Linked DNA regions of Homo sapiens. The protein of the gene in region 1 interacts with the protein of each later gene in a biochemical or structural test. Each region holds a gene or a part of one and is shown in the gene's direction. Other genes may lie near its edges.

Region 1 (3,943 bases):
CATCAAGATTTTAGAAAACAATTATACCATACTTCTTAACTTCTTAAGAAGTCCTTTTGAATTGGGAATGAAATATAAAGTGCTTTTCATTAATATGATACATGACTGTATGTATTAAAATATTAACTCTATATAGTGGATTTTACCACATAAACCAACAAATCCAAACATTATTTTTTTCTCCCAGAAGGGTGCCAAATGTGTTAAAGATTTTTGGCTTAGCATAAAACAGATAAACCTTTTAAAATTATAATTAAATGTTTTATTCAGAGAAATTAAGAGTGATATTTATAGGCTTATACTTTATTAAATATATTTAAGGTTTCTCAAGATAAATATGTTCATTATTTGTAGGATGTTGATGCACTGATGTGTGTATATATTTCTTTGTGGAATACTCCTAATAAAATTTCAAGTTACATACTAGTTAACCTTTGCCACCTAGCTTATTTCTGAGCTGCCTTAGCATTCTTGTGCAAAAATTTACTCAGGGAAGGCCGACTAATTTAGTACCAGGCCAAGTAAATGACAATACCTTATATATCACAAAAATTAATAAAAACCATTTTAATTCCTAGTACAAATTTAGGGTTACTCTTCTGGCTTACCTAAATTTCTGTTTTCAAATACTTAATGTGATCACATCTTTTTACGTTCATCTATTGATATAATTTACAAAAGAAGATTATACTTGTAAACAACAAACCTGTTACCTTTGTAATCATTCAATGATCTTAGTTATAAAGATGATATAATTAGCAGATCAGATCTACTCTAAATAAAACATTCTTTAAAATACTATACAATATTTTTTCATTTTTATTACTTTATTATATATATGTGTATATATATATTTATACACACACACACATGTTTTACTTCAATATGTTGGGGGGTACAAGTGGTTTCTGGCTACATAGATGAATTGTACAGTGGTGAAGTCTGAGGTTTTAGTGCACCCATCACTCCAAGTAGTGTATATTGTACCAAATATGTAGTTTTTAATCCCTCATCCCTTTCTGAGTCTCCGAAGTACCTTATACTACTCTGTATGTCTTTGCGTACGCATAGCTTAGCTCGCACTTGTAAGTAAGAACGTATGGTATTTGGTTTTCCATTCCCTTCGAATAATGGCCTCCAGCTCCATCTAATTTGCTGCAAAAGACATTCCTTTACTCTTTTTTATGGTTAAATAGTATTCCATGGTGTATATATACCACATTTTCTTTATCCATTCATCCGCTGATGGGCACTTAGGCTGGTTCCATATCTTTACAACTGTGAATTATGCTGCGATAAACATACGTGTGCAGGTGTCTAAAAGACTATACAATTTTCTAAATGATCTAGTTTCCTTTATATATGCTACTTTAAATGTTAATGACTCCCAAAATGATATTATTATTTTTGACAGTCTTAAATAACACTGCCAGAGCTATTTTCATTTAGATATGGGTTAAAAACTACTGTCAATTATTTAAGAAAGTGTTCCTTTTTATAGGTAGAATTTTAATGATCAAAATTGATAATATGTCCAGTGGTTAATATGTTGTGTTCCTCAGATTTTTTCATGTAAAGGGAAACAAAGTCTCAAATGCATTAAAAGATTGGGGCAGAGACAGAATCAACAAATTTTTAAATACCTGAATAGAAACATTTTCCAGTGAAAGAATAAAGGAAATATCATCGTCTCTTCTTCTGAATTTGTCCTTCCCTATTTTGCCCTGGTTTTATTGTCCAAGTTTTCCTGAGTGAGGAGGATGGATGACTATACCTAACCCTCCAGGAGTTACCAGGCATATTTAGCCAACATATTTAATCAGGAAGCAAGAAGAGAGGGAGCTGTTAGCTCTTTCCTTCATTCCCCACTTCTTCTTCTCCTCTCTCTCTCCTTTCTTCCTTCCCTCCCTTTCTTCCCATAAATATTTTCAGGACATCCATTATGTGCCAGGCAATCTGGTACTCAAACTTGGAAAAATAAAACTTAAAAAGACATGGTACTGACCTTAGGGGAATTTGTATTGCTGTTAAATTCTTTTGAGACATAAGGGGAAAATCAAGCCTAGTGTAAATTAACATTCCTTAATGCTGTGCCTTTTAAAAATAAATGTGGTATGAGCAAAATTATTAGTTTATTACTTCAACAATAACTTCTTAAGGTAGGTAGAAAAGTGTTTCCAGGCCTATTGATATTACTGATTGTTCTTTCCTTTTCAAACAGAATCCGTTTTTAGAGGTCAAGGTAACAGACACACCAAAAAGATCCAGAAGGGATTTTGGTCTTGACTGTGATGAGCACTCAACAGAATCACGATGCTGTCGTTACCCTCTAACTGTGGATTTTGAAGCTTTTGGATGGGATTGGATTATCGCTCCTAAAAGATATAAGGCCAATTACTGCTCTGGAGAGTGTGAATTTGTATTTTTACAAAAATATCCTCATACTCATCTGGTACACCAAGCAAACCCCAGAGGTTCAGCAGGCCCTTGCTGTACTCCCACAAAGATGTCTCCAATTAATATGCTATATTTTAATGGCAAAGAACAAATAATATATGGGAAAATTCCAGCGATGGTAGTAGACCGCTGTGGGTGCTCATGAGATTTATATTAAGCGTTCATAACTTCCTAAAACATGGAAGGTTTTCCCCTCAACAATTTTGAAGCTGTGAAATTAAGTACCACAGGCTATAGGCCTAGAGTATGCTACAGTCACTTAAGCATAAGCTACAGTATGTAAACTAAAAGGGGGAATATATGCAATGGTTGGCATTTAACCATCCAAACAAATCATACAAGAAAGTTTTATGATTTCCAGAGTTTTTGAGCTAGAAGGAGATCAAATTACATTTATGTTCCTATATATTACAACATCGGCGAGGAAATGAAAGCGATTCTCCTTGAGTTCTGATGAATTAAAGGAGTATGCTTTAAAGTCTATTTCTTTAAAGTTTTGTTTAATATTTACAGAAAAATCCACATACAGTATTGGTAAAATGCAGGATTGTTATATACCATCATTCGAATCATCCTTAAACACTTGAATTTATATTGTATGGTAGTATACTTGGTAAGATAAAATTCCACAAAAATAGGGATGGTGCAGCATATGCAATTTCCATTCCTATTATAATTGACACAGTACATTAACAATCCATGCCAACGGTGCTAATACGATAGGCTGAATGTCTGAGGCTACCAGGTTTATCACATAAAAAACATTCAGTAAAATAGTAAGTTTCTCTTTTCTTCAGGTGCATTTTCCTACACCTCCAAATGAGGAATGGATTTTCTTTAATGTAAGAAGAATCATTTTTCTAGAGGTTGGCTTTCAATTCTGTAGCATACTTGGAGAAACTGCATTATCTTAAAAGGCAGTCAAATGGTGTTTGTTTTTATCAAAATGTCAAAATAACATACTTGGAGAAGTATGTAATTTTGTCTTTGGAAAATTACAACACTGCCTTTGCAACACTGCAGTTTTTATGGTAAAATAATAGAAATGATCGACTCTATCAATATTGTATAAAAAGACTGAAACAATGCATTTATATAATATGTATACAATATTGTTTTGTAAATAAGTGTCTCCTTTTTTATTTACTTTGGTATATTTTTACACTAAGGACATTTCAAATTAAGTACTAAGGCACAAAGACATGTCATGCATCACAGAAAAGCAACTACTTATATTTCAGAGCAAATTAGCAGATTAAATAGTGGTCTTAAAACTCCATATGTTAATGATTAGATGGTTATATTACAATCATTTTATATTTTTTTACATGATTAACATTCACTTATGGATTCATGATGGCTGTATAAAGTGAATTTGAAATTTCAATGGTTTACTGTCATTGTGTTTAAATCTCAACGTTCCATTATTTTAATACTTGCAAAAACATTACTAAGTATACCAAAATAATTGACTCTATTATCTGAA
Region 2 (3,600 bases), on another chromosome or scaffold:
CCCCTCTTTACTGATGAGAAAACTGAGGCTCAGAGAGATTGCCTGATATACCTGAAGTCCCACAATAAGGGCTGCACATGGGATAGAAACTCACTTCCTACATTCCAGATGGAATGCTCTCTGCAGGCCAAGCCCGCAGTGCCTACGTCTAAGCTGGGCCAGGCAGAGGGGCGAGATGCAGGCTCAGCACCCTCCGGAGGGGACCCGGCCTTCCTGGGCATGGCCGTGAGCACCCTGTGTGGCGAGGTGCCGCTCTACTACATCTAGGACGCCTCCGGTGAGCAGGTGTGATCCCAGGGCCCCTGATCAGCAGCGGAGGAGCGCTCGGGCCACCTGCCCGGGCTGTGGAGGAGCGCTCGCGCTGACCAGGCGCTGGGGCGTCCACTGAAGCGGGGTCATCCAGGCAACTCGGGGGAGGGGAAGCTCACAGACCGGTACTTCCCACTCCCCTGATTCTCTCTGTCCATCCTCAACATTCCTTTGCTTCACAGGGTCAGTGGAAGCCCCAACGGGAAAGGAAACGCCCCGGGCAAAGGGTCTTTTGCAGCTTTTGCAGACGGGCAAGAAGCTGCTTCTGCCCACACCGCAGGGACAAGCCCTGGAGAAATGGGAGCTTGGGGAGAGGATGGGAGTGGGCAGAGGTGGCGCCCAGGGGCCCGGGAACTCCTGCCACAACAGAATAAAGCAGCCTGATTGAAAAGCAAAGGGTCTGCTTCTGTCTTCCTGCAGGGCGCAGTCCTGCCCTGGCGGGGGCCGGCCAAGAAGGGAAGGGCCTTGGGAGAGCAAAGTGGGGTTTGCCATTCGCCCTCTGTCCCAGGGCGCTGGGGCACTGGGTCCACCTCGGCGGGGGAGAGGGGCTCGCAGGGAGCCATCCACGGGCTTTCGGCGCCCTCCAGCGGCGTCTCCGGAGGAGGGAGAGACACCAAGACAGCGAGAGAGACAGAGCGCAGAGAGCGAGACGCGAGAGAGCGAGGGTCCAAGAAGGGGAGATAGGGAGACGCGGGCGGAGAGACCGACCCGAGGCGGGGGCGCGGGGCAGGGGCGGCGCGAGGACCTGACAGCGTGTCCCGCGGCGGGGCGGGGGCTCGGCCGCGCGCCCGCGGGGGAGGCCGCCGCTAGAGGGCACTTCAGGAGGGACAGCCCTCCCGGCACCCCGGGGCCCGAGCTCCAGCCCCGGCCTCGCGGCCCGCGGCCCGCGGCCCGGGCGGCCCGAGCCCCCTCCCCGGGCGCGCGGCTCTCCGCCTTCCCCGCCCCGGCTGGCGCGCGGCCCGGCCCGGCCGAGCACTGTCCCGGCCCCGAGGGGGGCAGAGCTCGGGCGAAAACCCGCCCTCCAGCGAGCTCATTTCCCTAAAAAGGGGGGGGGGAGTCGGAGGGAGGGAGGGAGGGAGAGAAAGAAAGAGAGAAAAAGAAGGAAAGGGAGAGGGAGACGGCTGGAGCCCGAGGACGAGCGCGGAGCCGCGGACCGAGCGGGGGGCGGGAGACAGGAAGGAGGGAGGCGAGCAGAGGGAAGGGGAAGAGGTCGGGGAGCGAGGGCGGGAGCGGTCGCGGTCGCGATCGAGCAAGCAAGCGGGCGAGAGGACGCCCTCCCCTGGCCTCCAGTGCGCCGCTTCCCTCGCCGCCGCCCCGCCAGCATGCCCGGCGTGGCCCGCCTGCCGCTGCTGCTCGGGCTGCTGCTGCTCCCGCGTCCCGGCCGGCCGCTGGACTTGGCCGACTACACCTATGACCTGGCGGAGGAGGACGACTCGGAGCCCCTCAACTACAAAGACCCCTGCAAGGCGGGTGAGCGCCCCCCGGCCCCCCGGCGACGGGCCAGGCGGGGAGGCGCGGGCGGGTTCGGGCTTGGGGTTGGGGGAGGACAGTCCAGTGTGGGAAGCCGGGAGCTGCCTGGTTGGCAATGCAGTGGGGAACAAAAGAACGAGGGGGAGAGGGAGGGGGATTTGGGGGACTTTTCGGACTGAAGTTTTGCCGCTGTTGGTGGAAGCTGCTGCCGCTGCCTCTCATCTTCCCAGAGGATTCCAGAGGAAGTCTCCTTGCGTCCCGGGAAAACCGGCGGGCAAGGCGGCTTTTCCTTCTGTAGGAAACTTTTCTGGCCAAACTCCTGTGCGTGCGTGTGTGTGTGTGTGTGTGTGTGTGTGTGTGTGTGTGTGTGTGTTCTTTCCCCTTCTCCCCCATCTCTCCTGCTCCAGGAGCTGGGTGTTTTCCAGCCTGTCTGGGCTGCCCTGGGGCTGCACATCTGTCTGGCTTGGATCTGGGAGGCCTGAGTCTCCAAGGAGCAGGTCCCCCAGCCACCACCCAGCCCAAGTGGAAGAAGAAAGTTTTTCCAGGGATTCCCTGAGATCGTGCTCTCTGGGTATCCCGTAGTTTAACCAGTAGCTGAAGCTTTCTGGGACTTAGGAGACAGCTGTCAAAGTCAGAGAAGCCAACCCAGAAGGGGGACTTAACTTTGTCCCTATGTGCCCAGAGACCCCCGCCAAGGCCAAGTTGGGGTGGAAAGAGGGAAAATACAAAGAGAACCCAGATATTGTATATCAGCTCTGTCACCCCCGAGACACCAGAGGCTAATTAGCTGAGGTCAGGACCCCGGAGTGTGTGTTTGCCTGTATGTGTGTGTGTTCTTTGTCTCTGAAGACTCTATGTAACCCCATCACTCCTGCTGAGCCCAGAAGGGTCCTGCCCCTGGAGTGACCAGATGGCCAGGCACTCGGGCCATTTGCCTGATTGGATGACCCTGGGCAGGCTGTTTGGGGACACACAGGGACAAGATATCAGAACTTTTCCTTGACTTCCTGCCTCTCTGACTTCAGCTCATCTCCAAATAGCCAGAGCCAGGGGAAGTGGCATAGTTGCTAGAACTGGACTGCCTGTGTGGGGCACCAGGGGCGGAGGGGCAGGTTGCTCTAGTCCTGGCTCTGGAGACCCTGTTCAGGGACTCTCCTGGGAGGGTGGCCCACAGGCAGGAATAAGAGACCATCCAATGGAGGAAATCAGGGCAAATCCCTCAGCCCTTACCCCTCTACACCTGCTGGGCTGCGGGTAAACCAGGACATTTGCTGTCATTTTTCTCGCTGGGGGCTGGGAGTGGGTACAGGGCAGAGTGGACTGCGCATGGACTTTGAAGGCAGGCACATCTAGCTTTCAATCCTGACCCTGCTACTCATTATAGCTGTACCACCTCAGAATGGTAATGATCATGTCTGAACTGCCACTTTCACACCTGTAAAATGGAACTGATCATGCATCTTCCCATAGAGTTGGTGGTAAGGGTTAAATATGAAAACATACATAAAACACTTAATAGTGCTTAACACACAGTCAGCGCTAAATAAATGTGGGCTCCCTACTCCCTGTTTTCTGTGCCTCAGACTGTCACTTCATTTTTTTGAGAGGTGTGGGATTGCTGGTGTCTCCTTGTGCCTCTTATCCATCAATCCATCAATACCTAATATGTGCTAGGGCCTGGAATGGATGTTGTGGGAGGTACTGAGACGTACAAGCTAGGACCCTGCCTTCAAGGAGCTTACAGTCCAGTAGGGACCCAAGACACCTACAGACATAACCAATAGCACAAACCAAGCCACACTGAGTGCCACATTGGAGGGT

Evidence for each region. Proteins that work in one complex are often made in the same cells at the same time.
Region 2: of the proteins of MSTN (region 1) and BMP1, one has a biochemical effect on the other in vitro, tested with the Homo sapiens proteins (one study listed by IntAct).

What each region holds. Positions count from the first base shown.
Region 1 is NC_000002.12:190,055,917-190,059,859, reverse strand, and holds part of MSTN (growth/differentiation factor 8 preproprotein), read left to right. Parts: intron 1-2,221; coding exon 2,222-2,602; 3' UTR 2,603-3,943. UniProt on the Homo sapiens protein: Acts specifically as a negative regulator of skeletal muscle growth.
Region 2 is NC_000008.11:22,163,775-22,167,374, forward strand, and holds the start of BMP1 (bone morphogenetic protein 1 isoform 3 precursor), read left to right. Parts: upstream 1-1,597; 5' UTR 1,598-1,631; coding exon 1,632-1,779; intron 1,780-3,600. Other genes in the region: SFTPC (surfactant protein C isoform 1 precursor), read left to right, coding at 109-267. UniProt on the Homo sapiens protein: Metalloprotease that plays key roles in regulating the formation of the extracellular matrix (ECM) via processing of various precursor proteins into mature functional enzymes or structural proteins.